Linked DNA regions of Homo sapiens: regions 1, 2 and 4 are each linked to region 3. Evidence: fine-mapped expression QTL. A gene starts in region 3. Each other region holds a variant in brackets. All regions are shown on one strand. Distances are between the middles of the regions.

What was found. PIP is the estimated chance that this variant, and not a neighbour inherited with it, causes the effect. A credible set is the group of variants that fine-mapping cannot tell apart.
Region 1: its variant is the best candidate, but not a certain one, in a credible set for the expression of HINT3 in whole blood (TOPMed, PIP 0.71).
Region 2: its variant is the best candidate, but not a certain one, in a credible set for the expression of HINT3 in whole blood (TOPMed, PIP 0.87).
Region 4: its variant is the best candidate, but not a certain one, in a credible set for the expression of HINT3 in subcutaneous fat (TwinsUK, PIP 0.74).

The regions. Positions count from the first base shown.
Region 1 is chr6:126,934,281-126,942,512 of GRCh38, forward strand. The region is part of intron 7 of LOC105377989 (a long non-coding RNA gene); the gene reads right to left. Among named protein-coding and RNA genes, the nearest start is that of RSPO3, 180 kb to the right of the region's middle. The variant A/G (reference allele first, on the strand shown) is at 4,041.
Region 2 is chr6:126,160,276-126,168,507 of GRCh38, forward strand. It overlaps a transcript of TRMT11 not described here. Among named protein-coding and RNA genes, the nearest start is that of CENPW, 180 kb to the right of the region's middle. The variant G/A (reference allele first, on the strand shown) is at 4,187.
Region 3 is chr6:125,953,625-125,961,856 of GRCh38, forward strand. It overlaps HINT3 (histidine triad nucleotide binding protein 3), which reads left to right and starts at 3,146. Exons shown (of 5, transcript NM_138571.5): 1 at 3,146-3,554. The coding sequence starts at 3,354. RefSeq lists enhancers at 3,159-3,258, 4,319-4,368 and a silencer at 3,429-3,648.
Region 4 is chr6:126,005,753-126,013,984 of GRCh38, forward strand. It overlaps TRMT11 (tRNA methyltransferase 11), which reads left to right. Exons shown (of 13, transcript NM_001031712.3): 8 at 2,640-2,720; 9 at 5,501-5,665; 10 at 7,019-7,100; 11 at 7,218-7,349. Among named protein-coding and RNA genes, the nearest start is that of TRMT11, 23 kb to the left of the region's middle. The variant C/T (reference allele first, on the strand shown) is at 5,090.

The sequences.
Region 1 (8,232 bases), 980 kb after region 3:
TTACCAGCCTCTCACAGACCACATAATTTACACTTTAATTATTTTGGTTTATTGTCTCTCTCCTTCAACTTGAATTTAAGCTACACATGGCCAGGGATCTTTCTTTGGTTCTCTGATCTATCCCAGCACTAGCATGGTACCTGGCATATCGTAGGAACTTAATAAATTTGCTGATTGAATGAATGAACATGTACCTGGGTTGAAATTCTCACTTTCCTACTTATCAATGAAAGAACTTAAGAACATTATTTAACCCTCCTGGTCCTTGTTTTTAATTGTGGCAAAATATACATTACACAGAACTTACCATTTTAACAATTTTTAAGTGTATAGATCTGTGACACTCAATACATACCTTGTTCTGTAACCATCACAGATTAAAGTCATGTCCTGAACCTTTGTGGCAAAATATACATTACATAGAATTTACCATATCAACATTTTTAAGCATACAGATCTGTGGCATTCAATACATAACTTGTTCTGCAACCATCACCACTATCAATATCCAGAACTTTTTCATCTTCTCCAACTGAAATTCCACATCTTTTGAGCAACAACTTCCCATTCCCTCATCTCCTCAGCTTCTATCAATTACACTTCTACTTTTTGTCTATGAATTTGGCTTCTTACTGCAGCCACGACCTCCTAGGCCCAAGCAATTCTCCCACTTCAATCTCCTTAGTAGCTGGGACCACAGGTGTGCTTCACCACACCTGGCTATTTTATTTATTTTATTTTTTATAGAGACAGGCTTTTCACCATGCCTCCCTGGCTGGCCTTGAACTCCTGGGCTCAAGCAATCCTTGAGTGGAATTACATGGTATTTGTCTTTTTGTGACAGGCTTATTTCACTTAGCCAAATATTCTCAATGTTCACGTATGTTGTAGCATGTGTCACAATATTCTTACTTTTTAAAGCTGAGTAACATTCCATTCTATGTGTATACCACATTTTGTTTATCCATGAACACTTATTGGCTATTGTAAATAATGCTGTGATGAACATGGGTGTATAAATATCAGTTTGAGTCCCTGTTTTTAATTATTTGGGGCATTTACACAGAAGTGGAATTGTTGGATTGTGTTAGTAACTTTATTTTCAGTTTCTGAGGAATCGCTGTACTATTTTCCACAATGGCTGCACCATTCTACATTCCCACCAGCAACACATGTACACAAAGGCTCCAACTTCTTCACTTCTTTGCAAACACTTACTATTTTCTTCTCTTTATTTTGATACTAGTCATCCTTATGTTTGTTAGGTAAACTTTTCTGAGTTTAAATAACTTTACTATATAGGAGGGACATCCCAGAGTAGGTATTAATTAAAAGGAGACTTTCTTTTTATTTATCATTATATTTCAGAAGAAATTTTCCATGTAAATGTTGAGTCACTCCCATTGTTCCTGTAATTATCTAAAATTCATTCAGATTGGTATAGCAATAAATCAAACTAGAAGATTTAAAGAGAAGAGAACAGAGGTTTTGTTTTGATTTTTTTCTTCTTTCACCCATGGAGGAAATTATTCATGATTGGATCTAGTGGAAAGAGTTCAAATGATTATAAACTGAGACATAATTTTAGTGACTTACATTTTCTTTTAGTGAGAAGGACCTGTGAGGAAAATTAAAGATATTAAGATAATCTGATTCAAGTATGAAAAATTCTACCCTTGAATTAAAATACGTGATTACTTCAGTTGATCAAGTTGCCTATTTACACATTTTAAAAATCACAGAAAATGATTGATTCAAGTGAGTATTTGATTGATTTCACCATTGTACTATTTATTAAATGTTAACACTTCATAATTCTTCTTTCTGACCCTTTGGTGATTCATGCCTAGCCTGGAGTTAATAAACAAAGTTTCTGGTGCTTAGGAAACTTTTTTCTTTAACATTCTGTTTACCTCCCTTCAGTTCAGCAAAAGCTTACCAAACAGACATCATGGGCAAGACATGTACAAAATGCACAGAAGAATAAGATGTCATCTACACTTTTAAGAGCTTGTAATCCAGACAAGAAGGAACATGATAATCATTATTTTAACCATTTAAAAATATAAGAGAAGATTGGATCGATATGGCAGAAAGAAACATACATTTCCACCTATTCTTATGCCTAAAATACCATGAAATCAAAGAAAAATTGTATCTGTCTCTCTAACAATTTCTATATTGATATCTATCTATGAATACAGTAAGAGAAGGAATAAAATAAACTTTATTGTAACAATTTCCAATTATGAAAAGAGGATTGGAGCAATATGGAAGAAGGAACATGTATGTCCAACTGCTCTTCTGTCTAAAATGCCATGAAATAAAAAATATATTTATATTTAGATAACGAATCTGCAGTAGCTCATGAAAAACAGGAAAGAGGTCTGAAAGCTGTCTACAAAATCTGAAATATTTTTATCTTTCACCCAAAATCACAAAAGCAGTTTATGATTAAATATAACTAGAACCCATACTGAGGTGGGCAGAGTACTCAAAAAATATTAATAAAACAACAAAATTACTAATAATTTGATGAAAACCAAAACAAAGAGACTTCACACAAATAACAAAAAAAAGAAAACAATAATGAAAAAGAGATACAATAAAGAAAATAAACTTTTAGTATAGAATTCTGTATCGATAAGATATCAAATAAAGATTGTGGAAATACAAACTAAGGTAGTTGAAATGGAAAAACAAAAACAAAACCCTCTATAAATTGATTAAATAGAGAATGGGTGCAGCCAGATGCTAAATCTGTGAGCTGGAGAATGGAACCACGGACATCTCCCAGAACATAACACTAAAGAGCAAAGAAGTGGAGAGGATAAGAGAAAGGTCAATAGACAAAGAAAAGAAATTCCAACATCAATTTAATAGGAGTTCTAAAAAGAGCAAAGAGAATGGAATGGGAGAAATGACAAAGAAATCATGAAAACTAAAGAAGAAAATTTTGGATCTAATTGCACAGCTGAAAGGTCTTAGAGTGCCAAGAAAGACGAATAAAAATAAACACCTAGGCCACCATACTGAAGTTTTAGAAATTCAAAGATGAAAAGAAAATCCTACAAGATTTAGGAGGGAAAAGAATTAGTTAACTACAAGAAGCAACCCACAAATCAGATGAACAAGAAATTATCTCCTTTGCAATACTGAGAGGTAGAAGATAATGGTGCTATATCTTTAATGTTATCATTAAGAAAAAAACAACTGTTTTTGAACCTAAAATACTTAACTACATTGAAATTCAAAATAGCAACATTTAGAAATGTGTAATGAGTCAGAAAGTTTGCCAACCATAGTTCTCTGAGAAAATTACTCAAGTATAACACAGGAGAAAAAGAGCCCAAGGAGTAGGAAGAAGCAGGCTAGCAGAAAAAGTGGTGAGTCAAGAAACCAAGAAAGCCATTTTAAATACTTGCTGAACTGTAGCTTAAAGAAATCAATTAGGAATCAAATTCTGGAATAAAAATTCCAATGATTTTAACATAGGGAGATGATAAAGGTGATATTTAATCACCAAAAAAGCATGTTAAAGTGTTAAAGTGATACATTAAAATACAGAGCTGATCTAGTTTTTAAAATTAAGCTATATGCTATTTACAATGAGATAGTATATAGCAGACAAACAAATTAACTTTTATGCCTATGACAGCATAGCTATATGTTGACAAACTCATAGAAATATATGAAAAAATATAGTATTATAATTTGAGAATAATATGCCCATAATAAATCAACAGTATACAAAAAATAAAAATGCAGAGGCTTTAAATGACACAATTAACAACTCTTATTTAATAGGTAATAAAGAAATTTACATACTAAAATCAGAGAATTCGTATTTTAAAAAATAAAATGAATTCAATAATTCACAATTTATAAGGCCCCAGAGAACAGAAAAGATAGCAATTAATTCTGACTGAAAGGGGAGAAGATATAGAATATTCCAGATACACTAAAGTATTCCAGGAAGAGTGAACAGTACGTGCAACGCTTATCCTTCAGTTTCTGCCCAACCCCATTTCTCTAAGTAC[A/G]CTGTATCCCTTGTGGCTCTTTAATTACTCCCTTGTGGCTCTTTAATTGCTCTCAGGAAATGTGTTAGATGTTGGACAAACTAAGTTCACAGCATTAATATTGTACCAGTGGAAGAAGAACAGAGAAAAGATAAGCATTCATATTTAACTTTTCCATCTTAACTGTCACTAGTGCCCTGAAATATGCAATAAACAATGTTATTTTTAGTTTTAAAACACTAGAGATAGGTGACAATAGTTTGGATTTGTGTCCTTGCCCAAATCTCATGTCGAATTGGAGAAAGGGCCTGGTGGGAGGTGACTGGATCGTGGGGGCAGATTTCCCCTATGCTGTTATTGTGATAGTGAATGAGTTCTCACGAGATCTGATGGTTTAAAAATGTGTGGCACTTCCCCGCTCAGCTTCTCTATCCTGCCAACCTGTGAAGAAGGTCCTTGCTTCCCCTTCACCTGCCACCATGACTGAAAGTTTCCTGAGGCCTCCCAGCCATACTTTCTGTTAAGCCTGCATAACTGCAAGTCAATTAAACCTCTTTTCTTCATTAACAACTTAGTCTCAAGTAGTTCTTTATAGCAGTGTGAAAATGGACTAATACAATAGGTACAGGTATGTGTGTATTTATGCATATATGTATATATGTTCATGTATATATACACACATACATTTACACATATGTGCATATATGTAGATACATATATGTGGGTGTTTTGTATATATATGTATAAACATGCACACATATATTCATATATATGCATATATGTATTATGTATCTGCATGTAAGTATATATATCATTTTCAATATATATAGAGAAAAATATTAACAGATATTCAACCAGGATTGTAAAGTAAAGCCAAGTGAATAATGAGCAACTATTGAATTTAATTGATAGGTCTCAATTACCTATAAGATATGTAGCATTATTCTTTAAACTATAGAATGGTATGTTATCACATGTAAGTGTTGTGTTTGCCATCCATGCCTATAATATGGTAAAAAGTTTCAAAAAGCAGTTTAGTGAATAAGACTGCTCTAGTGTACAATAGCAAAATTAGAACTATTAATTGCAGTAATAGTATTGAGGAAAATATTATTCATACTTCATAATACCAAGCTCATTATAACAGATATTCTATTAATTTTTTTTTTTTTTTGAGATGGAGTCTTGCTCTGTCACCAAGCTGAAGTGCAGTAGTGCAATCTTGGCTCACTGCAACCTCCGCCTCCCGAGTTCAAGCGATTCTCCTACCTCAGCCTCCTCCTGAGCAGCTGGGACTACAGGCGTGTGCCACCGTGCCCAGCTAATTTTTTTGTATTTTTAGTAGAGACGGGGTTTCACCATTTTGGCCAGGATGGTCTCAATCTCCCGACCTTGTGATCTTGCCGCCTTAGCCTCCCAAAGTGCTAGGATTACAAGCGTGAGCCACCATGCCTGGCCTGGTATTCTATTAATTTATTGACTCATAGAATATGCCCATCAATGACCTCAAAGGTCAACTATCCTCAGAGATTTATCAATGATGTTGCATTGTAATGCTCCAAATAAAATGCGACAAAATACAAAGTTCTGTGTAAACCATTGTTGCTAGCACAGAATAAAAAGAAAAAAAATGTTTTGAGATACATTGGAAGGCATATACTGCTTGGACTCTTGCTGACATGGCAGAACTCACTCTTCAAGGGAAGAGCTTACACTTTTTGACTCTATAAATATTTCTTGGTTTAAAGAAAACATTGTTCTCGAGTCTGTCTGTAGTCCTACCATTCCAAATAATATAATAGTGAATAACTACCGCACCTTCATTCAGTAAGTTTTATGGACATGATAGGGCAGGGAGGGAGATGACACTCCTAAGAGTAGAGCTATGGACTGAAATTGTGTTCCTCCAAATTCACATGGTGAAGCCCTAACTGCCACTATGATGGCTTTTGGAGATGGAGCCTTTGGGAAGTAATTAGGTTTAGCTGCGGTCATAAGGGGGCCCTCATGATGGAATTAATGCTTTTAAAAGAAGAGACACCAGAGAGAGATGGCAGTCATCCATAAGCCAGGAAGAGAGTCCTTACCAGCCCTTGACCATGCTGGCACCCTGATCTCAGACTTCCAGCCATCACAACTATTAAGAAATTCATTTCTGTTGTTTAACCCACCCAGTCTATAGTTAGAATGAGATAACTAACACAAATAGTATCATAAACTAGCCAAGGACAAGAAAAATGTTCTGGGTTAGCTGGCTTTGCTTATATAAGGATGAACTTACCTAGATGAAAATTCATATATGAAATACATACTTTATACCTCATCACAGATAAAAACACTCAAATAAGAACCCCAATAAAATAGTGTCAAATGACACCAACAGAGATCTATAAATGCAAACTTTCTTGGTAACCTCCCTGATTGCACTAATCAAGTAGAATAGCATAGATCCCATGTCCTACACTGGAACCTTATAAACCTTGCTCTTGGCCAAATTCCCAGTAGCTGCTTTCATCCAGGTTTCTGTGCGAGACCCCAGAGACAGCCTTCTTAACCTGCACAAACCCACAGTAAGCACGAAGCTCTAAGAAGTCCTTGCCAATATATTTTTTCTAGCTTTTGTGCAAATATGAATGAGACAAAAGGTGTCTCAGAGGTGCAGCAAGCCCATTAATTCTGTTTCTGTGGCCAACTTAAGAGGATGAGAATCTTTCTAACAGAGGGTGTCTTACATACCGTACAGTCCTCAGTCATCTAGCTCTCCTGCACATGCAGAAATCAACTTTGAAACACTAGATGCCTATGACTGAAAATCTTTCCTCTTTTGAATCTTTTGTGTTGTACTTTAATCCTCTTCTCTCATTTTTCCATAGTTTTTATATTTAATCGTCCTCCTGCAATATTTCTCCTCTTTTTTTCTCATGATCGTTCTGTTCATTTTTTCTTTTTACATCCATTTTTAACTAATCTGCTTTTTTAGCTTAAAAAAATTTTTGTCTCCTCATCCACTAACTTGAAACCATGTAAATGGTTGCATCTTATTCATCCTAAAAACGTCCTATTTTTTCCCCATCTTTCCAAGAATTCCCAGTTCCTCACATTGTCCACAGAACTCCTGTTGTTGTGGGGTTTTGGGACTTTCTACTAACAAAGATTACTTTTTCCACCCCCATGCTAGAACAAGATTAAAGACCAGGAGTAGGGTGAGATTAACAGCCAGATGAAGTTGAGAGGGAGAATAAAGTAAGAAGTTAGGGGGAGTTGCTTCTCCTCACTGAAAGGATGGCTACTTTTAGGGTATCAAGCATGGAGTCTTTATGGATTACCCTGGTTCATTCCCACTGCACCCCACTGAAGCCTACATCTTTTTTATCAAAATTAAAGATGTGTGCCTACGAATATTTCCCATACGAATGATATTTGATTTAAAGATATTTTCTGAATCTGAACACTTTACCATGGACTCCTTAATTGCAATAAAATTGATGAAAAAGTACCTCGGAATATCAGTAGTCTATCAACCTGTGATTCACTCCAAGAGAGGAAGAAATTAGACATTTAAAATTTTACCAAATGCAAAGCTTCATGTTTTAATATTCAGAGTCTCCTGGAAGATTGTGTAAAATGCTGGTTGCTTGCCAATAGATGATACTGGGATGCTGAAAGTTACTCCAGAGAATAAAGACTCCCAGATTCTGAGATCTAACTTTGGCCATTTGTTTAACTAATGAAATGTCTTGGGGTAAAAAGTTTTTCTGACTACAAAAAGTTTGTCATGCAGCATAGTGAAGCAGCACACACAGTGGTTGGAGCAAAGACTGTGTTCCAATACTTTTCCTGACTTTGCCATTCTTATACGACACTGGGCAAATTACTTCTCCTTGCCTCAATTTCCCCATCTGTAAAATGGGGATAACACTGGTACCTATTTCTTAGAATTTTGAGAGAATTTAAAGATAATTTAGAACAGTCCCTGGTACATAAGAAACACTAAATATAATTTAGCTATTATTTTTAAGGCTACCTCAGTAGTCTTCCTTAAAACTATATGGAATCCCTCAGGCATAATTCTGTACCCCTGCGCAGTCATTTAAAGTTACAAGTTTTTCAATACTTAGGGGAAAGATCTTCACCCCTGTCCAGAAGCTGAACAATATATTAAGCATGTCCTAGGGCATGGTTTTGTGACCATGAAGAAAGAAAAAATCTGGAA
Region 2 (8,232 bases), 210 kb after region 3:
TACTGAAGCCCACTGGACTATGACCATGCTGTACTTCACTGATACTGGAAAAATTTATTTTTCACACTTTTTTCCTCACCCAAAGTGTCTCAGAGTTGTTGCTATTGCTTCTTTTTTTTTTCTTTTTCAAAAAATATATTTACGTGAAAGAAGAGTCACCATCTTTCTAGACCTCATGCTCAAGTCCATGGAGACTAGAAGGAAGGCAGAGATGATTCTGGAGAGGTAAGAAGGACAGCGATCTCAACAATAGGAAGACTTCATGCTGAAGCATTGTTCTACTCGCTCCTCCTGGTGACTGTGTAGCTGTGTTTCTAACTCTCCTTCCCTCAGCATAAGCTCTTGCCAGGGGTCTCTTTAGTCAGATATACTCTTGACCAGCATTACTTCCTTTTCTCTTGACCCTCCTGCTTACCACCCTCACAGACATGACGAGACCTGTTTAATCCCAAACTGAAAACAGCAGACACTCTGACCTCATATGCTTTTACTGAGAGCTATAAAACGTGTTAAAGACTAATGATAATTAGAACTTCATCTCCATCTCCAAACAATAATCTTCTTTTAGGTGAAGCTAACAAATGATTGGTTGACAGGAGCCTGTCAGAAAACTCCTATTTAGACAATTTTCTTCAAGCAAGAAGAAAGAAATAAAAGTACAGAAAGTTTAGAAATAAAAGTACAGAAAGTTTAGAAATCGAAGTACAAATCGGGGTGAGTCAAAAGGTCAAAACTTAATCTGTGGCACACATTGGCAGCCACCACCTGGTACATCTGGTATTATGGTTCTTTTTATTATTATTATTTTTAAATATTTTATTATACTTTAAGTTCTGGGATACATGTGCAGAATGTGCAGGTTTGTTACATAGGTATACATGTGCCATGGTGGTTTGCTGCACCCATCAACCTGTCATCTACATCAGGTATTTCTCCTAATGCTAACCCTCCCCTTGTCCCCCAACCCCCCTACAGGCCCTGGCATATGATGTTCCCCTCCCTGTGCCCATATGTTCTCATTGTTCAACTCCCACTTATAAGTGAGAACATGTGGTGTTTGGTTTTCTGTTCCTATGATAGTTTTCTGAGAAAGACAGTTTCCAGCTTCATCCACGTCCCTGCAAAGGACATGAACTCATTCTTTATTATAGCTGCATAATATTCCATGGTATATATGTGCCACATTTTCTTTATCCAGTCTATTATTGATGGGCATTTGGGTTGGTTTCAAGTCTTTGCTATTGTGAATAGTGCTGCAATAAACATATGTGTGCATGTGTCTTTATATTAGAATGATTTATAATCCTTTGGGTATATACCCAGTAATGGGATGGCTGGGTCAAATGGTATTTCTAGTTCTAGATCCTTGAGGAATTGCCACTCTGTCTTCCACAATGGTTGAACTATTATTTACACTCCCACCAACAGTGTAAAAGCATTCCTATTTCTCCACATTCTCTCCAGCATCTGTTGTTTCTTGACTTTTTAATGATCGCCATTCTAACTGGGGTGAGATAGTATCTCATTTGTGGTTTTGATTTGCATTTCTCTAATGAACAGTGATGATGAGCTTTTTTTTCATATGTTTGTTGGCTGCATAAATGTCTTCTTTTGAGAAGTGCCTGTTAATATCCTTCACCCACTTTTTGATGGATATCAAAAGTGGATATCCATCTGGATATTAGCCCTTTCTCAGATGGATAGATTGCAAAAATTTTCTCCCATTCTGTGGGTTGCCTATTCACTTTGATGATAGTTTCTTTTGCTGTGCAGAAGCTCTTTAGTTTAATTAGATCCTATTTATCAATTTTGGCTTTTGTTGCCGTTGCTTTTGGTGTTTTAGTCATGAAGTCTTTGCCCATGCCTATGTCCTGAATGGTATTGCCTAGGTTTTCTTCTAGGTTTTTTATGGTTTTAGGTCTTAAGTTTAAGCCTTTAATCCATCTTGAGTTAATTTTTGTATAAGGTGTAAGTAAAGGGTCCAGTTTCAGTTTTCTGCATATGGCAAAGCCAGATTTCCCAACACCATTTATTAAACAGGGAATTCTTTCCCCATTTCTTGTTTTTGTCAAGTTTGTCAAAGATCAGATGGTTGTAGATGTGTGGTGTTATTTTCGAGGCCTCTGTTCTGTTCCATTGGTCTATATATCTGTTTTGTTACCAGTACCATTCTGTTTTGGTTACTGTAGCCTTGTAGTATAGTTTGAAGTCAGCTAGTGTGATGCCTCAAGCTTTGTTCTTTTTGCTTAGGATTGTCTTGGCTATGCAGCCTCTTTTTTGGTTCCATATAAAATTTAAAGAAGTTTTTTGTAATTCGGTGAAGAAAGTCAATGGTAGCTTGATGGGACTAGCATTGAATCTATAAATTACTTCAGGCAGCATGGCCATTTTTATGATATTGATTCTTCCTATCCATGAGCATGGAATGTTTTTCCATTTATTTGTGTCCTCTCTTATTTCCTTGAGCAGTGGTTTGTAGTATTCCTTGAAGAGGTCCTTCACATCCCTTGTAAGTTGGATTCCTAGGTATTTCATTCTCTTTGTAGCAATTGTGAATAGGAGTTCACTCATGATTTGGCTCTCTGTATATTATTTGTGTATAGGAATGCTTGTGGTTTTTGCACATTGATTTTGTATCCTGAGACTTTGCTGAAATTGCTTATCAGCTTAAGGAGATTTTGGGCTGAGATGATGGGGTTTTCTGAATATACAATCATGTTATCTGCAAACAGAGACAATTTTACTTCCTCTCTTCCTATTTGAATACCCTTTATTTTGTTCTCTTGCCTGTTTGCCCTGACCAGAACTTCCAATACTAGGTTGAGTAGGAGTGGTGAGAGAGGGCATCCTTGCCTTGTGCTGGTTTTCAAAAGGAATGCTTCCAGTTTTTGCCCATTCAGTATGACATTGGCTGTGGGTTTTTCATAAATAGCTCTTATTATTTTGAGATACTTTCCATCAATACCTTGTTTATTGAGAGTTTTTAGCGTGAAGGGGTGTTGAATTTTATCGAAGGCCTTTTCTGCATCTATTGAGATAATCATGTGGTTTTTGTCATTAGTTCTGTTTATGTGATGGATTACTGATTTGCATATGTTGAACCAGCCTTGCATCCCAGGGATGAAGCCGACTTGATCATGGTGGATAAGCTTTTTAATGTGCTGCTGGATTTGGTTTGACAGTATTTTACTGAGGATTTTTGTATCAATGTTCCTCAGGGATATCGGCCTGAAATTTTCTCTTTTTGTTGTGTCTCTGCCAGGTTTTGGTATCAGGATGATGCTGGCCTCATAAAATGATTTAGGGAGGAGTCCCTCTTTTCTATTGTTTGGAATAGTTTCGTAAGGAATGGTACCAGCTCCTCTTTGTACCTCTGGTAGAATTCGGCTGTGAATCGGTCTGGTCCTGGGCTTTTTTTGGTTGGTAGGTTATTAATTACTCCCTCAATTTCAGAAATTGTTATTGGTCTATTCACTTCTATGCATAGAGGTGTTTATAGTATTCTCTGATGGTAGTTTGTATTTCTGTGGGATCAGTGGTGATATTCCCTTTATCATTTTTTATTCTGTCTATTTGATTCTTCTCTCTTTTCTGTTTTATTAGTCTGGCTAGCAGTCTACCTATTTTGTTAATCTTTTCAAAAAGCCTGCTCCTGGATTCATTGATTTTTCGAAGGGTTTTTCATGTTGCTGTCTCCTTCAGTTCTGCTCTGATATTAGTTATTTCTTGTCTTCTGCTAGCTTTTGAATTTGTTTGCTCTTGCTTCTCTAGTTATTTTAATTGTGATGTTAGGGTGTTGCTTTTAGATCTTTCTCACTTTCTCCTGTGGGCATTTAGTGCTATAAATTTCCCTCTAAACACTGCTTTAGCTGCATCCCAGAGATTCTGGCATGTTGTGTCTTTGTTCTCATTGGTTTCAAATAACTTATTTATTTCTGCCTTCGTTTTGTTATTTATGCAGTAGTCATTCAGGAGCAGGTTGTTCAGTTTCCATGTAGTTGCACCTGTGTTGAGTGAGTTTCTTAATCCTGAGTTCTAATTTGATTGCACTGTGGTCTGAGTAACTGTTTGTTATGATTTCTGTTCTTTTGCAGTTGCTAAGGAGTGTTTTACTTCCAATTATGTGGTCAGTTTTAGAATAAGTGCTATGTGGTGCTGAGAAGAATGTATATTCTGCTGATTTGAG[G/A]TGGAGAGTTTTGTAGATGTGTATTAGGTCCACTTGATCCAGAGCTGAGCTCAAGTCCTGAATATCCTTTTTAATTTTCTGTCTCATTGATCTGTCTAATATTGACAGTGGAGTGTTAAATTCTCCCACTATTATTGTATGCGAGTTGAAGTCTTTTGTAGGTCTCTAAGAACTTGCTTTATGAATCTGGGTGCTTCTGTATTGGGTGCATATATATTTAGGATAGTTAGTTCTTCTTGTTGCATTGATCCCTTTATCATTCTGTAATGTTCTTCTTTGTATTTTTCTTTTAATCTTTGTTGGTTTAAAGTCTGTTTTATCAGAGACTAGGATTGCAACCCCTGCTTTTTTTTGCGTTCCATTTCCTTGGTAAGTCTTCCTCCATCCCTTTATTTTGAGCCTATGTGTGTCTTTGCACATGAGATGTGTCTCCTGAATACAGCACACTGATGGGTCTTGACTCTTTATCCAATGTGCTAGTCTGTGTCTTTTAACTGGGGCACTTAGTCCATTTACATGTAAATTTAATATCGTTGGCTGGGTGCAGTGGCTCACGCCTGTAATCCCAGCACTTTGGGAGGCTTAGGTGGGCGAATCACAAGGTCAGGAGTTCAAGACCAGTCTGGCCAACATGGTGAAACCCCGTCTCTACTAAAAATAAAGAAAATTAGCTGGGCGTAGTGGTGGGTGCCTATAATCCCAGCTACTCAGGAGGCTGAGGCAGGAGAATCACTTGAACCTGGGAGACGGAGGTTGCACTGAGCCGAGATGGGTGCCACTGTACTCCAGCCCAGTGATAGAGTGAGACCGTGCCTCAAAAAAAAAAAAAAAATTGCTATGTGTGAATTTGATCCTGTCATTATGATGCTAGCTGGTTATTTTGCCCATTAGTTGATGCAGTATTTTCATAGTGTTGATGGTCTTTACATTTCAGTATGTTTTTGCAGTGGCTGATAATGGTTTTTCCTTTCCATATTTAGTGCTTCCTTCAGGAGTTCTTGTAAGGCAGGCCGGCTTGTGACAAAAATCCCTCAGCATTTGCTTGTCTTTAAAGGATTTTATTTCTCCTTTGCTTATGAAGCTTAGTTTGGGTGGATATGAAATTCTGGGTTGAAAATTCTTTTCTTTAAGAATGTTGAATATTGGTCCCCACTCTCTTCTGGCTTCTAGGGTTTCTGCAGAGAGATCTGCTGTTAGTCTGATGGGCTTCCCTTTGTGGGTAACCCAACCTTTCTCTCTGGCTGCCCTTAACATTTGCTCCTTCATTTCAACCTTGGTGAATCTGATGATTATGTGTCTTGGGGTTGCTCTTCTCAGGGAGTATCTTTGTGGTATTCTCTGTATTTCCTGAATTTGTATATTGGCCTGTCTTGCTAGGTTGGAGAAGTTCTCCTGGATAATATCCTGAAGTGTGTTTTCCAAGTTGGTTCCTTTCTCCCTGTCATTTTGAGGTACATCAATCAAATGTAGGTTTGGTCTTTTCACATAGTCCCATATTTCTTGGAGGCTTTGTTCATTCCTTTTAATTCTTTTTTCTCTAATCTTGTCTTCATGCTTTATTTCATTAAGTTCACCTTCAGTCTTTGATATCCTTTCTTCCGCTTGATCGATTTGGCTATTCATACTTGTGTAAGCTTCATGAAGTTCTTGTGCTGTGTTTTTCAGCTCCATCAGGTCATTTATTTTCTTCTCTAAACTGGTTATTCTAATTAGCAGTTCCTGTAACCTTTTATCAAGGTTCTTAGCTTCCTTCCATTGGGTTTTTGGAATTTTCAGCCTTTTTGCTCTATTTTTAATTCATCTTCATGGCTTTATCTACCTTTGGTCTTTGGTGTTGGAGGTCTTTGGATGGGGTTTTTGCATGGGCATCCTTTTTGCTGATGTTGATGCTATTCCTTTCTGTTTTTTTTCCTTCTAATAGTCAGGGCCCTCTTCTACAGGTCTGCTGGAGTTTGCTGGAGTTCCACTCCAGACCCTGTTTGTCTGGGTATCACCAGCGGAGGCTGCAGAACAACAAAGATTGCTGCCTGTTCCTTCCTCTGGAAGCTTCGTCCCAGAGGGGCACCCACCAGATGCCAGCCGGAGCTCTCCTGTATAAGGTGTCTCCCAGACAGGATGCACGGGGGTCAAGGACCCACTTGAGGAGGCAGTCTGTCCCTTAGCAGAGCTCGAGCGCTATGCTGGGAGATCCACTGCTCTCTTCAGAGCCAGCAGGCAGGAGCATTTAATTCTGCTGAAGCTGCACCCAGAGCTGCCCCTTCCCCCAGGTGCTCTGTCCCAGGGAGATGGGAGTTTTATCTATAAGCCCCTGACTGGGGCTGCTGCCTTTCTTTCAGAGATGGCCTGCCCAGAGAGGAGGAATCTAGAGAGGCAGTGTAGCTACAGTGGCTTCATGGTGCTGCGGTGGGTTCTGCACCCAGTTCGAACTTCCTGGAGGCTTTGTTTACAGTGTGAGGAGAAAACTGCCTACTCAAGCCTCAATAATGACCAGTGTCCCACCCCCCACCAAGCTCAAGTGTCCCAGGTTGACTTCAGAGTGCTGTGCTGGCAGCAAGAATTTCAAGCCAGTGCATCTTAGCCTGTCAGGCTTCATTGGGGGTGGGATCCACTGAGCAAGACCTCTTGGCTCCCTGACTTCAGCCCCCTTTCCAGGGGAGTGAATGGTTCTGTCTCGCTGGCATTCCATACACCACTGGGGTATGAAAAAAACTCCTGCAGCTAGCTCGGTGTCTGCCCAAATGGCTGCCCAGTTTTGTGCTTGAAACCCAGGGCCCTGGTGGTGTAGGCACCCGAGGGAATCTCCTGGTCTGTGGGTTGCGAAAACCATGGGAAAAGCATAGTGTCTGGGCCAGATAGCACTGTTCCTCATGGCACAGTCCCTAACAGCTTCCCTTGGCTAGGGGAGGAAGTTCTCTGACCCCTTGCACTTCCCAGGTGAGGTGATGCCTCACCCTGCTTCTGCTCACCCTCCATGGGCTGCACCCACTGTCTAACCAGTCCCAATGAGACGAAGTGGGTACCTCAATTGGAAATGCAGAAATCACCTGCCTTCTTCTTTGATCTCACTGGGAGCTGCAGACCAGAGCTCTTCCTAGCCATCTTGCCAGCCATCTGTTATGGTTCTTAAAACATTAATTTGCTATTGTGTGTTCAGCTTATCTAAAAAATAAAGTATGGGAATCAGTGAATTTTGAGGAGAAGGCAATGCTCTTATGTGTGTGTATATGGTGTGTGTCTGTATTTGTGCCTATGGATAATCATTAGTTTCTCAAATGTATGCAAGTGATACAGCACATATGTGTATTTCCCAGTCTTCATACGCTCAACAGACCAGCCTTCTTTTTCCACCTCGGACATATGTTTCTGGGTAGGTTTCCTGATTTGTAATCAGTCAGCCTCTGATATTCACTGTGACTTTGGTTTCCAGCCCTGTCTGGAAGAACTCCAGCCTGGGAGAATGTAAACATTTTATTCAGAAGCCTGTGATGTTGGAAAGAGGAGGTTTTGGATGATTTTTGTTTTTGTTTGGACTTGGGTCAGTGTCTCCCATTTATAGCTGGAATGTGAACTGCATGGCTTCAGATGTGTTTTGGAAGATTGATGTGGGCCTCATGAAACTCAGCTACAGTGGAGCCTCAGGAGACTAGGAGCTGGTTATCATATTAAGAAACACATTTCTTTTTATCAGTGAATATTAATGCTGAACAGTGAAGCTGTGGAACTCCTTCTCTTACACCGGCAACCTCAGCCCTCCTAGAAAAGCTGTGTAGTCAGAACCAGTGTTAGGGGGAGTTCTTTATGGTTTCTCCAACAGTCGTTGATACTGAGTAAAAAGGGACTACCCAGGGGATTTCAAGTCAAAATCTAAGAACTAAACTTATTTCTGTTAATGATATGAATGACATGTCATTGGTGAATGGAAAGAAAATGCTCTCAATATATGGAGCTATAGGAATAAATGCTAGAAGTGAGGCTAAGTTTTTGCCAGCTGTATCCTACTGATCATATTGGCCATTATGTTAGAATTGCCACTTTCCCTCTCCTTG
Region 3 (8,232 bases):
GGGTGCCTGGAGCTGCCTGCCCCTCCGCAGCAGCCAGCATGCCTGGCTGTGTGCAGTGGCCAAACAGCGTGCTTGCACACACACCCCTCGCTGCTCTGCACCTGGCTTGCCTTTGGCAGGTGTGGGATCCAAGGCTGGTTGTGTGAGCTGAGCGCAGCCTGCTGGTCCGAGTGGGTGGAACAAGCCCAGTGGGCATGAGCAAAACTCAAGCAGAGGGGCTGCTGGCCACAGGGGTTTCCAGCTGGTGAAGCACCACCTGAAGCATCGGTGACAACTCTACATGCAACATGATCACGCATTAGGCATCATTATTATCCCCATTTTATAGATGAATGAACAGAAAACCTCCGCACAGGAAGATAAATAATTTGTGTCTCAGCAGAGAAAGGAAAATAACATAGCCCAAGTTTTTGCAGATGGTAAGTTGTAGAGTAGTCTGACTCCAGAGCCTGCTCTGAAGCAGGGCTCCTGCTAGCCCATATGGTAGCCCTGTGAAGTTAGCCAATAGCACCTGATTTCACAAGCAGATTTTAAGTTAGTATATTGTTATGGAACTGGAATGGCTGTTCCCCAGGAGGGTTATCCAGAACACCCACTGGCAGTAGTCCTGCCTATGTACATACAAGTGCCTGTATTTTTGCCTGCTTCCACACAGGACACATCGTCTACACAATTTTCAAGTACTTCATGTTGCTCCCCTCACTTCCAAAGTGGGAAAATTATCAAGTTCAAAGCTGAGGAATGAGAAGCAAGCCTTGGAAAGTCCCAGGTAAGTGAGAGAAGAAATCTCAGGTGTCACTAGGAGTGCAGTCAGAACAGATGCAACTTATGCTGGTGTGTGTGCTAGTGTGTAAGTGAATGGTCTCCTAACTGTATGTGTGTGGCCATATGCACCCAATGGGGGTTTATATACAAATCAGCTTTCCACCGCTCCAGAACTTAGCCTGGAATCTCCAGTTCTGTATGTGCTTTTCCATAAGTTAATACATGTGTATGATATGAATCAGCACACTCTTATCTGTAGTATCCTTGCACACTGTGAAACCTGAACACTCTCATGCTGTGACCTTGCTCCTAACCATTCTTCATTAGAAAATTGTTAAATGTCTACCTCCATGCAAAGCACTGTGTTGCAGGATTATTTAGGAATCAGAAAGACCGAGGGGTTGAGGAGGATTTATTATTTAGGTGCACCGGCACAGTCAGATTAACATCCGCTGAGCCCCGAACAAAGGGTCAGGTTACCTTTTAAGCATTTCGTGGGCAGGGGGCAGTTGGGGGGAGATCTGTGCAGGGGGAAGCATATTACAGAAGTAAGAAAAATGACAGTTATTTAATTGAGATATGCATTACATAATTTCTTACTTTTCAAGGAAAAACATATTTTATGACTTGAGTTTATCTGTCTAGTGACTTTGCAGCTGCACAGCTAGAGAAACAGGGTCTTCACAATGCCTGGGAAAGGGAGAGATAAGGCTCACTAGCCACAGATAGAAAAACAGGCAGTTAATTTTTAAAGGACTCTACCTCTTTCTCCTCCTCAGGGGGAACTGGGTTTTCTTACATACAACTGAGTTTTTGCTTACATATTCTTTAATTCCTGTTCCAACTGTACTAGGCATTATGGAAGATTCACACACCCAATCTTGTTGCCAAGAAACATAATTCCTAGCAGGATAAATAAGTACATAAATAGCTATAAGATACAAAGAGACAAATCCTACAAGAGAAATATTGAAAACCTGTTATATGAATTTGCAAGAGGATGTGCTTATGTCAGTTTGGCTAAAGAAAATTTCATGAAGGAGGTAGCATTGGAGGGGTGGCTTGGAAGGTAGAATTTGGAGTGAAGAGATGGAAACAAGAATATTTGAGAGAGAACTGTGTGAATAAAAGCAGTGATGTGAAGGTGTAGTACAGGCATGGAAATTGTGAATACTAAAATTTGGCAAAACTCTAATGTATTGATTCTGAACTCTGCTTTGGGGTGCTGAAAGGCAGTGAAGCTATTGTAGTGGTTCCCCAAACTACGGGCCAACTACAAAAAGGAATGAAAAATGTCTTGAATGTATATGTACAACAATTCAAAACACATACAACCACTTTTTATTACAACATAAATCCATTAAAAATCATTACTGAATTCCCAATTTGTTATGTATTTTCTAAATCAGCAAATACCAAGGGTGTAACTACTATAGTGAGCTAGTCCAACAAATTTTTTGGTGTTAAAAAAGGAGTGCTGTATGTCAAAAAGGTTGGTGGGTTTTGGAGTTAGACAAACCTTGATCTTAAACTCTGTCACTATTAATTAGTTGTGTGGGACTGGGCAACTCTGAGTTTGGTCCTTCATCTCTAGAGCGGTGGTTATAAAACCAACCTTGCGTTTTTTGACAATTAGAGAAATATATGGCATGTTTTAGATGCTCAGCAAGTGGGAAGTATCACAAAACGAAAAGCTGAGGTCAAATCAGAGTCCACCTTGAACACCAAGCTAAGGAACTGGTACTTTTTCTTTGAGCACATAGTTACAGAAGGTTTTGTCTGAGTGACAGGAAAATCAATAAGTAAGTTAGAAGGTGATTGCGTTGGTCTAGGTGAGGCATTATGAGGCACTGGCATTGAATTTCTGGGATATTTCAGAGTATTGACTATAGGACTCCACATCTACTTGTATATGAGGAATGTGAGATTAAAAAAAAGGTCGCTAGTTTGATCTAACTGTGCTGTTAACAACAATAAAAAGTCAACAGAGATGTAAAGGTCAGTTTTGGACATTTTGAGTTTAAACTCCTACAATTATCGTGGCTGAAAAAGCAGCAAACATGATGTCTGTTGAAAACAAGGCTTTAGGAATTTTGCTCATTCTTTAAAAACCTACGAATTTTAAAAATCAAACTTTAAAAAACTTTTTGTTTTTTTTTTTAAAAAAACGGCAGCGTAATACAATATTTGGACACGCTATACTATGGGCTTTGAAGAACGCCTGTCCAGAACACCCAACAAGCTCCATTATGTCAAACGCTCCCGCGCCTCTGTGATGTCACCACGACGCGCTGGGCGCTCTGCGACTTGGCAGACGTCGTGCGTCATTACCAACGAGGCGCAGGGGTCAGGACGACTCTCGGCAGCGCCATTGCGCGCCCTCTAGTGGCAGCCGGTTTTGAGGCCGGCCTCCGGCTTTGAAGTTCCTCACCGCGTCTCCTTCCCTCTCCCCAAAGCCTGGATCACCGCCCAGCGTCAGGCGAGGGGCGACGTCTCGAGGTAAAACGGAGGAGGTGCGGGACGCGGAGACTGCGCGGGCCCGGTAGCCCTGGAGAGGCCGAGGCTCTAGGCCGCGAGGGGCGGGTGCAATGGCGGAGGAACAGGTGAACCGCAGCGCCGGCCTGGCCCCCGACTGTGAGGCCTCGGCGACTGCAGAAACTACGGTTTCCTCAGTGGGGACCTGTGAAGCCGCTGGCAAGTCACCAGAGCCCAAGGACTACGACAGCACCTGCGTGTTCTGCCGGATCGCGGGGCGGCAGGACCCGGGCACCGAACTCCTGCACTGCGAGGTGGGCGGCGACGCGCGGCCGGGGGTGGGTGAGGACCTGGCCGCCCCTCGGAGCTCCGGCAGGGAGGCCTCGCCGTTGTGGAGCGGGTGCAGAGGATCCCGATCGCTACTCAGCTCGCAGAGGCAGGGCCGCTCTGTGTGGATGGGGCTCGGGGAAGCTGGGGATACGCCCACTACGGGCCTTTCTGCAGGGTCCGGGTGCTGATGACAGACTCACTCCTAGGGGACTGACAGGCAGTGGCTCCAGCGGTATCTTTGCTGTTCCCAGGGGCAAAGAGTGAATGACAGGGCCGAATGCTTTGGCCTATGTTTGCAGGTACCCAGGTAGTTGGTACAAATAACATTTTGTGGCCTCTGCTTTTATTACAAGGATTCTTCTCCACCTTCAAGATACTGATTTTAAATCCTGCACACTCTAATACCGATACTGATGAGAAAACTAGTAGAAAATAGGTAATGATAATTGTGGAAAGCTGTTTGTTAGATTGGCAGAAAATAGGCTGGAGGGAGTGGGTCTGAGGTCAAACTATTATTGAATTGCCTCTGAATTCCACTGTCAGTTGGGATGCGTGGACATTTTCAGAGCATGAAGACTTTGCCCAGATATTTTTAAACGGATAATCTGGCACACACTTTATTCTGTTGGTTTTACTTGTCCATATAGAAACAACTTTTTGAGAGAATTAGCTCCAAAGATTGTGTCTTTTGTAGTAAACATTCCTTTATTTTTTAAAAAATAAATATAATTCCTTCTAAGCACCTTGTTTTGGAGGTTTTTGAGCAAGATAAGGGACAGTCTGTGTCCCGATTTTACAATCTAAAGGGCGGAATGTATACAGAGGAGGTAGCCAGTTACAATGCCTCGTGCTGTGGTCAGGTGATTTTACAGTATTTTGTAAGCTTGTGGGAGGAGCATCTAACCCAGCTCTGAAGAATTAGGGAAGGCTTTCCAGAGGAAATGAGACATGAAGAAATAAGTAGGAGTTGATCAGATGAGGAAATGGAGAGAATAATGTCCCAGGTTGAGAGACCCCCCGAGAGGTTCAGTTTGTGTGATAGAAAAACTAACAGAAATTGTCTAACTAGTGCATAGAGTTTGAGAGGATGAAAGGCGAGGCTGGAGAGGTAAACAAGGGACCAGATTATTAAGTGTGTTGGAAGTCATGTGAAGGAATTTGTCTTTATCTGAAGAGCAAAGTGAAACTTCACAATGTTTAATGGTGGGTTGGGAGGAAGATGTTGCGGAGTTATAGGAAGGGGGTTGATCTTTGAAAGGTCATTCTGGCATCATTGTGGAGAATGATTTGGAGGAGACCAGTCTGGAGGTATGGAGACCCGTTAGAAGGCTAGTAGATTAATCTACCCTGATGATGGCCTGAAATGAGAATGTGGTAGAGGAGATTATGAAAAGTATATCAATTTAAGGGATACAGTATTCAGGAGGTAAAACAGGGAGGACTTGATGGATACAGGTCAGTGATTCTCAACTGGGGGCAATTTTGCCCTCCCAGGGTACATTTTGCAATGTATTGAGATACTTTTGATTGTAACAACTTCTGGCACTTCTAGGGGTTGCTTCTGGGACCTAAATAATGGATAAAAGCCAGGGTTGCTATTAACATGGTACAGTGCACAGGACAGCACCCCCACCACCCCATCAACACACACACATAAAACAGGCTTATCCAGCCCTCAAAATGTCAGAAGTGCCAAGGTTTAGAAACCCTGATTTAGATATAAGAGGATAAGGAAATGAAAGAGGGTGAAGTCAAAGATGATTTCCAGGTTTCTGGCTAGGGTAAACTAGTAGTGGTGGTACCATTTCATTAAGCTCGGGAACACAGGAGGAGAAAAGATGGCCAGGGGAGTGGTGGGAGGTAGCAAAGCGATGAGTTGAGCTATGGAGTTGTGGAGTTTGAGGTGAGTTTGAGGCATCTAAGTAGAGATGTCTTTTAAATGGTTGGATAGTCTAGCACTCTGTAGAGGGATCTGTATCTCTAACCCAGATTACAGGAACTGTCGGTTTATAGATGGAAACTGAAAAAGAAGGGAAGCGATGAGATCACCCATGAGGTAAAAAGTGAAGGGGAGGCCTACACAGAACTCTGAAGAACACTAACATCATAAGGGACAGACAGAGGAAGAGGACCTGGAAAGGGAATAGAGAAGGAACAGAGAAATAGAAGGAACGCTGGAAAGGCTAAGAGAAGGGAGTATGTCAAAAAGAAAGGAATTGCCAGCAATGTCAGCAGCAATATTAGCCTGCCTTCATCCTCAAATCTGGGTTAGATGACCCTTGTATGTCCTTGCAGAGTCAGAGCAGGACTGGTTGTGTCCCCAAAGTGATGTTCATTGACCTTGAGGAGAGCAATTTCATGAAGTGGTGAAGCAAAAGGCAGATAGCAGTTGATTGAGAAGAACTTGGGAAAGGAAGGAGTGAAGACAGCAAATACAGACAACTCTCACAGGAATTTGGCAATCCAGGGGAGGAGGGAAAGGTAGTGGTAGCTACAGGAGAAGTTGGGGATTAAGAGAAAGCTTTTAAAACAGTGAAACCTTTTGTGTGTTCAAATCCCAGTGGGAAGATGCCTATAGAGAGAGGTTTAAAATGGCCCGGCGGGTAGAATGTTGACCCTGGGAAAGAGGAAACTCATTCCTCACTCTCTGTGTGCCAGGCACTGTTGGAGGCATGGGGATACAGCCGTAAACAAAACATGCAAAACTCCTTGCCCTTGTGGAGCTCACATTGTCGTTGCAGAAAAGGATAATAAGCAAAACAATAAGTAAAATTTATAGTTTATTAGATGGCAGAAAATAAAGAGGAAGGGGATGCAGTTTTAAAATTTTAGTCAGGAAAATCTGCACTAAGCAGGTGACATTTGGGTTAAGCCTTGAAAAAGGAGAAGGAGCAATTATATGGTTATATGGTTATTTACAAGTAAAAGGTTTGAAGTAGCTCCTGTGAAGGCTAGGAGAGAGAATTAGGGAAACAAGGATTGTTGTACAGCGGGTCACGTGAGGTTGAGGACATTCAATTTCAGGTCATACCAGTCTGCTTAGTTGTGTGATTTTCTTCCCACTTTCCAGCAGCAGCCAAAGGCTGAGATTACACAAGGTAGGCAGTTGTATTGACCCAGGGTTGGGATTTTGCCATGTGGTTGTTATAGAAGTGTAGTGAGACACAGTTAAGAAGTTATGGAGCCGGGCGCAGTGGCAAACGCCTGTAATCCCAGCACTTTGGGAGGCTGAGGCAGGCGGATCACGAGGTCAGGAGTTCGAGACCAGCCTGGCCAATATGGTGAAACCCCATCTCTCCTAAAAATACAAAAATTAGCTGGGTGTGGTGGCAGGCACCTGTAATCCCAGCTACTTGGGAGGCAGAGGGAGGAGAACTGCTTGAATCCAGGAGGTGGAGGTTGCAGTGAGCCAAGATCGCGCCGCTGCACTCCAGCCTGGGTGACAGAGCAAGACTCTCTCTGGGGGGGGGGAAAAAAAAAGAAGTTAGGGCAAGCAAGTGGCTGAAGTGGTAGACCATGGAATATATGCTGAATAGGAGAAGGAAGTAAAGACAGCACCTGACAGGGAGAAAGAATACGCACATCAGTTTTCTGTTTGCAGACCTTTGTTGGACTGACCCATAGAGTCAGAAGGGACCTAGTTCTGCCTCTTCAGTCTCCCTTTATTTTACTAAATATAAAAGTAGGCTAAAGAGAGGTAAAGTGCATTTTTAAACTCAGAGTTCAATATTTAGTAGATCCTTAGAAACTGCTTTTAAATTTTGTATTCTGCAGTTCCAATAATGAAACTAATAGAAAATAGATACTAGTAGCAGTAGAAAGCTTTGTCTGAAAATAGTCATCAAAAGGGGTGGGATCCAGACTTCTATCACATCCAAGGTGAGAATTTTTCTTGGTTAGGAACAAAGTAAACAATATGAAGAGACTGGGGATATTTTCATGGTAGAAATAAGACATGATCAGTACTTTCAACTAATTTACACCCTAAATTAGGGAAACGGGGAATATATACAATAGCCCATTGTCAGTGGAAAAACACAAACTGTGCTTTTTTTGTTTTCCCATTCAACAACAGCAATCAACACAGAACACTTCTGTGACCAAATGTATGGAGGTTTTCCCCCACACACCAAGCAAACAATCAGTTTTGCAGCAGACACCAGCTGGTTGTCCTCCATTTCAATTCTTATACTATCTACCTGATGATAGCATCAGATCCCGCAGGTTGAAGACTCAGTCCCCAAGACTGGCCTGCCCTTCCCACTAGTTGCAAGTCCAGGCCTCTGGAACTTCTGACCGACCAGCTTGAAGTTGGGGATCCCACAAGCTTCTCTTTGGGTTCTAAAGCTTGCTAGAGTGGCTTACAGAACTCAGGGAAACACTTAGGTTTACTGGTTTATTATAGAGGATATACCAAAGGATGCTGCTGAAGAGATGAATAGCCCAAAGTATGGGGAAAAGGGGGCAGAGCTTCCATGTCCTCCTCAGGCGTGTCCTCTCCCAGGAGCCTCCATGAGTTCAGCTATTCAGAAGCTCTCTAAACTCTGTTCTCTGGGGCCTTTTATGGAGTCTTCATTGGATAGGCCTGACTGACAATTCTGTATTAATGTGACTGGACAAAAAGGGTATGATCTAATACTAGTAGACTGAGTGGGGAAACCC
Region 4 (8,232 bases), 52 kb after region 3:
AATTCTTTGTTTATAATTAATATGTGCAAGTGGATGCCAGTTGCTTTAGGTAGCACAGAACTCTGCAGCCGTAGATCTGATCCCCTCTCATCCCCTCTGTCAAGTGAGTCAGCTCCTCCAGTAATGAGAATTCACCCAGAAGACTAATGTATACTCCTTGGCCATGTCTACCTTCAGATGACCCATAGGTGGAAGGAAAGGAGTGTAGCTCCTTTTGAAGTTTTATCATTGTAAAATAGTGGACGCAGAAACCAGGTGTTAAGGAACTGACTGTCCTGGTTCTGGGAAGAGAAAATGGGGAGAAAAAGAGAAGGTTAGGAGAGTGAGATAATGGATCTCTGTAGTTTATATAATATTCTCTTTCGCATTTTTTTCCCACTACCCTTTGTAGTCCCCTTTTCCTGGAATCCCATGGTTCGTCTAGTAGGAGTCCCATTGTCTAGCAGTATTCTTTTGCTCGGCCTGCTAATTTAATTTATTTAAGTAGAATTCTTTTTTTAAAAAAGATAAAATAGATGCAATAATATTGCCATTTTTCTTTCTTTTTTTTCTCTCAGCAAAACCAAAGCCCAGTCTCTCATTTCTCCACGTTTGCAAAGCTTTCCAGTTAGTTCTTTAAAGATGAAAATCATGAATTAGTTTTTACATCATGGAATAAATTCAATTCTTATTGTATTATTTTGCCTGTAAGATACTACCCTAACCTTAAAGTGCTTACTATTTAAGTAATGAGAAATTGAAACACCGAGTTGCTAGCATAGATCACATATGCAGTATTTTTACTTTTGGTAACGCAAAAAGAAATGGGTGAGTCATGTTACTTGCCTCCTTGACACTTCACTCTCCTTTTTTTTTTAGCACCCCTTCTTCCACCAAAAAGATCCCCTAAAAAACTCCAACTGAGGTATAGCTAAATGTAAAAAGTGCTTCAATTTAATCAAAAGAACAACTAGATGACTACCAATGATTACCCAGTGACCAGTTCAGATAAGCTAATTTATTATGATTTTATTTAAAAAAAAATAAAAGCTTAAAGGGCACGAAGTTAAGTATCAGGTGCAGTCTAACAGATTATTCATCTCCTTTCAGCAGTGTACTTGTAAATTGGGTCTTCTCAAAACTCACTCTAACCAAATGGATAAGGTTCTGTTAAGGAAGCACAGGAAAGCTTTTCTGTTCCCCTTGACAACTAGTTCTTCTAGGTGAGTATCTGCCTTAATTGGCAGAATTGTAGTAATTCCTTGTAATTTGGGTGAAGTGACTTTGTGAGTATTCCAAGTCATCACTTATGCTGCTTTTTCTAAATATGGAATGTTCCATTTCCAGAGTCAGAATTATGAGGACTTTTTAACCTTCCCTCTCACATAAATGCTTTTTGTAGTTAGTATGAGAGGACATAGGTTTTGGTTTCTGCTGTACTTTTAGTCTTTCATTTCTCTTCTTCATGGGTTCTAAAAAGAACTAGTCAGTTATAATATTTTCATGAACAAAGTATTTTTAATTCCATGCTACCAGACTATGTTTTAAATGGCTATGGAAGGAACATCATTAATTTATGGATCTTGACCCTCCAGAGGCACTACCCATCTTAGTTACAGAGATTACATCTCAAAAGGTTATAAGGGAAAGAGCCCCAGTATTTTTTCCCCTTGTCCAAGTCTGTGCATATTTTGTAGTTGAAGAATATATTTATGATTTCAGCTTGACTAGCAGGCCTTCCTAGAGTATAGCTAATTAAGACTTGCCCAAGCACTAAAAGCATTTTAATTTGAATGATTAAAAAAAGTGAATTTAATTAAAAGTACAATTATTAAAAGTTCAGTTAATTGTGTACAATTTTTTCTTAATTTAAAAATAGTATTACCTTTCATTTTAAAGAGTTTCATTATTATTTTAACCTTTATTAAGATTTCTCTTCATGCATGAGCTGGTCACATCTGTCACATTACTTTGTCTGGTCAGATTGTATTGGGACAGTTGTTCTTACTTTGGTCACAGCACTAATAAAAACAGTTTATTAATTATTTTGTGCATGTTTGATAATAGTTACTCAGAAATTTGTATTTACAGTTTAAAACAGGAGATAATTACTTGATTGGTTACAGGAGTAACTATATTAAAATAGTTAATTCTTACAAAAATTAAAATATGTCCTAACCTTTTAATTTCTGTAAGAACTAATGTCTCACATAGTAATTATGCCCTATTTGTTTGAAACTCTGACTTCAGTGGGAATTGAGCCTAGTCATCAGAATTTATTCTGTTTATTGCCAGCTCTTTGTATAAACAGCCTTATATGCTCATTTTTAAGAAAGGAGCAAAATGTTTTTGTGTAGAGCTCTAAAAATAAGATGAAAATGTCTAAATATACATTATTTTGACCAAAAAAAAGATAAAATAGTGCTGTTTAAAATAATGATGCCAGGGTATACATTAATTTCTCTACTTTGTTACCAGTTTAGTGACTATAGCTTAGGGGTTTGTTTTTTCAGTCCTGAGGCTTACTAAATATGTTACGACCAATGTCATTCCAGGATACTCTGCCTGCAGCTAGTTTCTAAGACTGGATGAAGTTAAATAGGAACAAACAGGAGTTTGGGACTTACTGGTTAACAGGTCAAAATTGTGTGATTTTTCAGGTGGCCTGCTGATAGCATGTGCTCATTTTGGTGCATATGTGTATGGGACAGACATAGACTACAACACAGTTCATGGCTTGGGTGAGTAGAGATTATAGACAGTATTATAGTCATTGCTGTGGTGCCAAATGTACCTTTAAACATACAGTTGACCCTGGAAGAACACAAGTTTGAATTGCACAGGTCCACTTATACTCAGATTTATTTCCATCTCTGCCCTCTTGAAACATCAAGGCCAATCCCTCCACTTCCTCTTCCTCCTCAGCCTGCTCAACATGAAGGTGATGAGGATGAAGACCTTTATGATGATCCACTTCCACTTCATGAATAGTAAATCTATTTTTACTGAATAAAGTAAGTATAACAGTAGGCTGTTAGTAGTTAAGTTCTGGGGGAGTCAAAAGTTATATGCATATTTTTGACTGTGTGAGGAGTGGGCACCCCAACCCCATGTTGCTCAAGGGTCAACTGTAGTTTTATATGGCATTATTTTAATCTTCAAATACAAAATTGTGATATAATTTTACTTGTTTTTATAAGACTTCATTGGGTATCTACTTTTATGATCCATTGTGTACAGAGTGATTTCCTGGGGGAACATGAAGGTGAATGAGAAAAAGTCCTGCTCTCAGAGGGCTTTAAGGAAGTGCAGGAAAGTGATAACCCAGTGACCAGTTCAGACCTATAATTTATTAATTATAACTAATTAATAAATATACATGATAATGAAACATATTTGGTTAAGATTATCACCACTCATTTAAAGATTATCACCAAAATTATTCACTAATCATACATTGACTATATACTGGATTAATAACTAGTCTTTGAGGTACTATTTATGTTTCTAATTTTATAACTGACCAAAACCTCTTTAAAGTAACTTTAAAGATTCTGCCTTGAACTGAGAGTACTTGAAACAGTCATCTGCTTTACTTTTCAGGTAATTATGGAAAATATTTTAAACTCTAGAAGCTTCAATAATGATGTGTGATTGGATGGAATTGAATCAAACTGAAAAAGTATTTCCTTATAGCTTAATGGTATTGAAAATGTCATTTTATTGATGATTTTGAGATTATTTGTGTTTATGTTGGTATTCATTATAATAACTGGGATCAGCCCTTATAATACTCTTTTCCTTTTCCTCACCCAGTATAAGTTATTGTATTGGTGAGCATTTATTATACTTTATTTTCTTTTGTGGAAGTAATTTGATATCTTGTACTGGTGACCTGTCTTTTTCCCTACCTTGACTGTAAAGAATTTAGTAACATTTATTAGGAAAATGAGTTATAATTTATTAGGTGTATATAAATGGGCTAGCAAGAAAAAGATATTCTTTATCTGAAATCTGTTTTAAAAAGTACTAAGAATTATTCCAATTTGCTTTTAGTAGAAGCAGTATATTTCTTTTAAGGAAATTGTCTTATATAATTTACTTGAATTTTTATTTATTAAAGTTATGTTTGGAAACTTATGTTGTAACCTTCAGTCTACTGGGGTAGAATTCTGATTGAGGTAGTTCCCTTAGAGCTTATCCAAGATACTGTTAGGTATACCCTCTGTTTCCTGTGGTTCTGAACTCTTACTTTATCCTAAAATATTCTCAAGTTTCTCCTGTTTTAAAAGTACAAAACTTTTTTTTTTGGCAAATCTGTAGAGGTTCTCTAGCTACCACTTTGTTTTCCTTTTCCATTTGCCAAAATGCTTCTTGAAAAACTAGTATAACTTCTTGTCTCCTCTTCTTCATCTTTCACTCTCTTCTGGCCATTATTTTCCAGCTTCTGTGCCTATCATTCTGTTGAAAACGCTAACAAAGGCCACAGATTTATAGCATTTGACAGTGTTGACCTTCATACAGCTGCTCTTGGTTTCCTTGACAGTGGTCTTGGCAGGTGGTACTTTTACTTTTTTGTTTCTTCTCAGTCTACTTGATGCCCTGCAATTTTCTTTGATTTATGTTTATATATTGTTTTTTTCCAGGCGTCTACCTATCTTTGAGCACTTCTCCGTCACACTGCATGTTTTTCAGAGTCATGTCGTTCTTCTTTTGATTTTATAAGAATAATTATAGAGCAAACATGTAACTGCCTCCTAAGTGAACAAAAAGAATGTTATTCAGCCTTATGGAGTCAGTATAAGATTATATGCTGATAACTCCAAAGTCTGTATATTCTGGCCTTCAACTACCTGCTGAATGTCCCCACTGCGTATCTTTTTCTGAAAGTTCTGCAGGTACCTCAAGGTACATCAAGATTGATATATCTTAAATGAATCTAATCTTTTTTCTTAAGCTTGTTTTTCTTCCTGGTTTCTCTGATATTAATCACTGGTGTCATCATCCTAAACTATCATGTCTCCTAAACAAGGAACTTACGAGCTTCTTTAGCCTTCCTTCCACTCCCACTTTAACTTTCATTAGCAATGTCTCCATTTTGCCTCCCTTC[C/T]TCATGGTCACAACTGCGGCATTTCCCAAGTTCGCTCTCTTCATTTCTGTTTCATTTATCTGATTCATACTATCTCTACACAGGACTGTTTACTGCTGGAAGAAAGGAACCATATTCTCTTCAACTCTATCTTACTACAAAAATCTTCGTACTTGAAAATATCGAATGAGTGTTTTAAGGCAGTTTTACTTGGAAGTTGACAGAACAAGATAAGTTAGACATCAGTACATTTTACTGTTATGTTGAAATTAAAATAACTATTTACTTGTATACATAAAATTAAGATTTTAAATGAAAGCAAATTTTGAATAAATGTAGGTTTCAGTGAGTTAAAACATTACTTTTCCTAAATGACAGAAAATAAGAATACTCTGTTTAATACTTTCTCTCTTCCTTTTTCTTTCCCTTCAGGAAAGGCTACTAGGAAAAACCAGAAGTGGAGAGGACCAGATGAAAACATTAGGGCCAATCTTCGTCAATATGGTTTAGAGAAGTATTACCTTGATGTCCTGGTTTCAGATGCATCTAAACCTTCCTGGAGGAAGGGCACATATTTTGATGCAATCATTACTGATCGTAAGTTTATTTTTATACAAAAGTAGGAGTAGGATTCGTTTTGTAAAATCATTTACATTTAAAGTACAAAATTTACCAACACATGCACAAAATGCCAACTTGTCAGTATTTCTCCCATCTACCCCCAGCTTCTTCATCTTGTAAGGAGAAAGTTATGAAGGTACTTAACTACCTTGTTAAGGGCTTACTGTTTTGTTTTTTTAAACAAATATATTGGCTTGCCATCCCCTGTTATATCCTTTTATATTAACTTGTCACCCGTTTTTCCCTTCAGCTTATTTTTTTGAGGCATATATTTAGTATTTGTTTTTGTATTGACTATAATTGGTTATTATACCAACTGGAGCTCACATGTCATTTGCAATTATGGTGTCAAATTTTGAACAGAGTTTCAGATATCACACATTTCTCTATGTGTAAGCATTTGTGTTTTTGTAGTGCCTGTTTTCACTGGCATCTCCTTTCTAGCATTACAAGAAATTTGGGGTTCTGTGGAACCACTGGGCCTGTGAACCTACTGAGCTTCAGGAATGTGCATGAAAATTTATTTTCCCATGCCTCATGAGGTCGTGAGTTTTTTAGGCAGCCTATCTAAGAATAGATCTGCCTTTTCTATAGTATTTGACAGTAAATCTGTAAAAAGTGGCAAAGTTCAGCCCTTCTATCTCAGCTCTCTTTAGTTCTTTACTAACTTAGATTTTGTCAAATGTAATGTAACAAAAGAAAAATTATCAAGGCCTTATGGTTTCAGTGTGAATATACTTTATGAAAATTTAGTTTTTTTTAAATTAACAGTTTGCTTTATTATTTGCTCTCCCACTCTGTGTTTACTTATATAAAATACATTTTTTTTTTCCGATCAACTTGAGAGTAAGTGGTATACATTGTGGCCTTTTACTCCTATACTTCAGTGTGTATTTACTAAGAATAAAGATAGTCTCTTAGCAAAAATACAGTTATCAAGTTCAGTAAATTGATAAAATACTTTCATCTACAGTTTGCCATTCAGTTTTGTCAACTGACTCAGTAATAGCTTTTATGGCATATATTCTCCCTCTAGGACAGGATCTACTCTAGAGTCAGGTATTGCATTTCGTAATGATATCTTTTAGGCCTCCTTTAATTTGTAACACTTCCACAGCTTTTCTCAATGACTTTTATGACATTGACATATTTTAAGAAGACAGTTGCTCCTCTCCCAAGTCTTTATGTTGTACATTTTCAGTTGGATTTGTGCATTGGTGATGTTGTGTTCTTCTCAGGGTGTCACATTTGAAGGCAGCATGGCTGTTTGCCCTTGATCCATGATTTGGTGACTTTTGACTATCTGTGTTACCTTTGTTTTCTGTCTAGCTCCATATGGTATCAGAGAATCTACAAGAAGAACAGGTTCACAGAAGGAGATACCAAAGGGGATAGAAAAATGGGAAAAATGGTAAGTGAAATTTAAATATGATGTGTTACTACCTTGAGAAGAGGCATGTGGCTTCCCCGTTAACTTAGCACTCTTAAAATTTTTCACTGATTTTGAAATTTTCTTTTCTTTGTGTAGTCCAGAAAGCCATGTTCCTGTTTCCTTGAGTTATCATCTGAGTGATATGTTTCTTGACCTGTTAAACTTCGCAGCTGAGACCCTCGTTTTAGGTGGAAGACTAGTCTATTGGTTACCGGTGTATACGCCAGAGTATGTAATCTTAATTTTATTTTTAATTTCATTTTTCTTACAATGTTTGCGTATCTAGTATAATTTTCTCTTTATCTCTTCTTGCATTTGGTGCATCTTTATATTTAATTTGTAATAGCCTTTGTTTGCCTTCAAATGTGTATAAAATAGTCTTTTTATTTATTTAGTTTTTTGAGACAAGGTCTTGCTCTGTCACCCAGGCTGGAGTGCAGTAGTGCAATCGTGACTCACTGCAGCGTTGACCTCCCAGGCTCAAGTGATCCTCCCACCTCAACCTCCTGAGTAGCTGGGACTACAGGCATGCGTCACCATGCTCAGCTATTTTTTATTTTTATTTTTTGTAGAGGTGGAGTCTCACTATGTTGCCCAGGTTGGTTTTAAACTTCTAGGCTCAAGCAGTCTACCTGCCTCAGCCTCCTGAAGTGTTGTGATTATAAGAGTGAGCCACTGTACTCAGCCTCCTTCTTTTCATCAACTGAATTGTTTTGACCTTGTTATTTTATATCAGGGGTTGGCAAACCACGGCCTATGGGCCAGATATGGTCCTCAGCCTGTGTTTATAAGGTTCTTGAGCTAGGACTAGTTTTTAGATTTTTGAAGTGTTGTTAAAAAATATCCACACAAAATAATGTGTGACAGAAACATACAGTATGTGACCCACAAAATCTAAAATATTTACTCTCTGGCCCTTTATAGAAAAAGTTTTGCCAGCCCTTATTGTACCCTACACTTAGCTTAGTACCTATGGATCACAGCTGTTTTATAGCTCTTTTGCCAGTCTATAGATGTAATTTTCAACAGCTTAGCTAAAGGATTCACGCTTCTGCTACCTTCTAATGCTAGCTTTAATATATATTGGCTATTATGATTATCTTAAGTACAA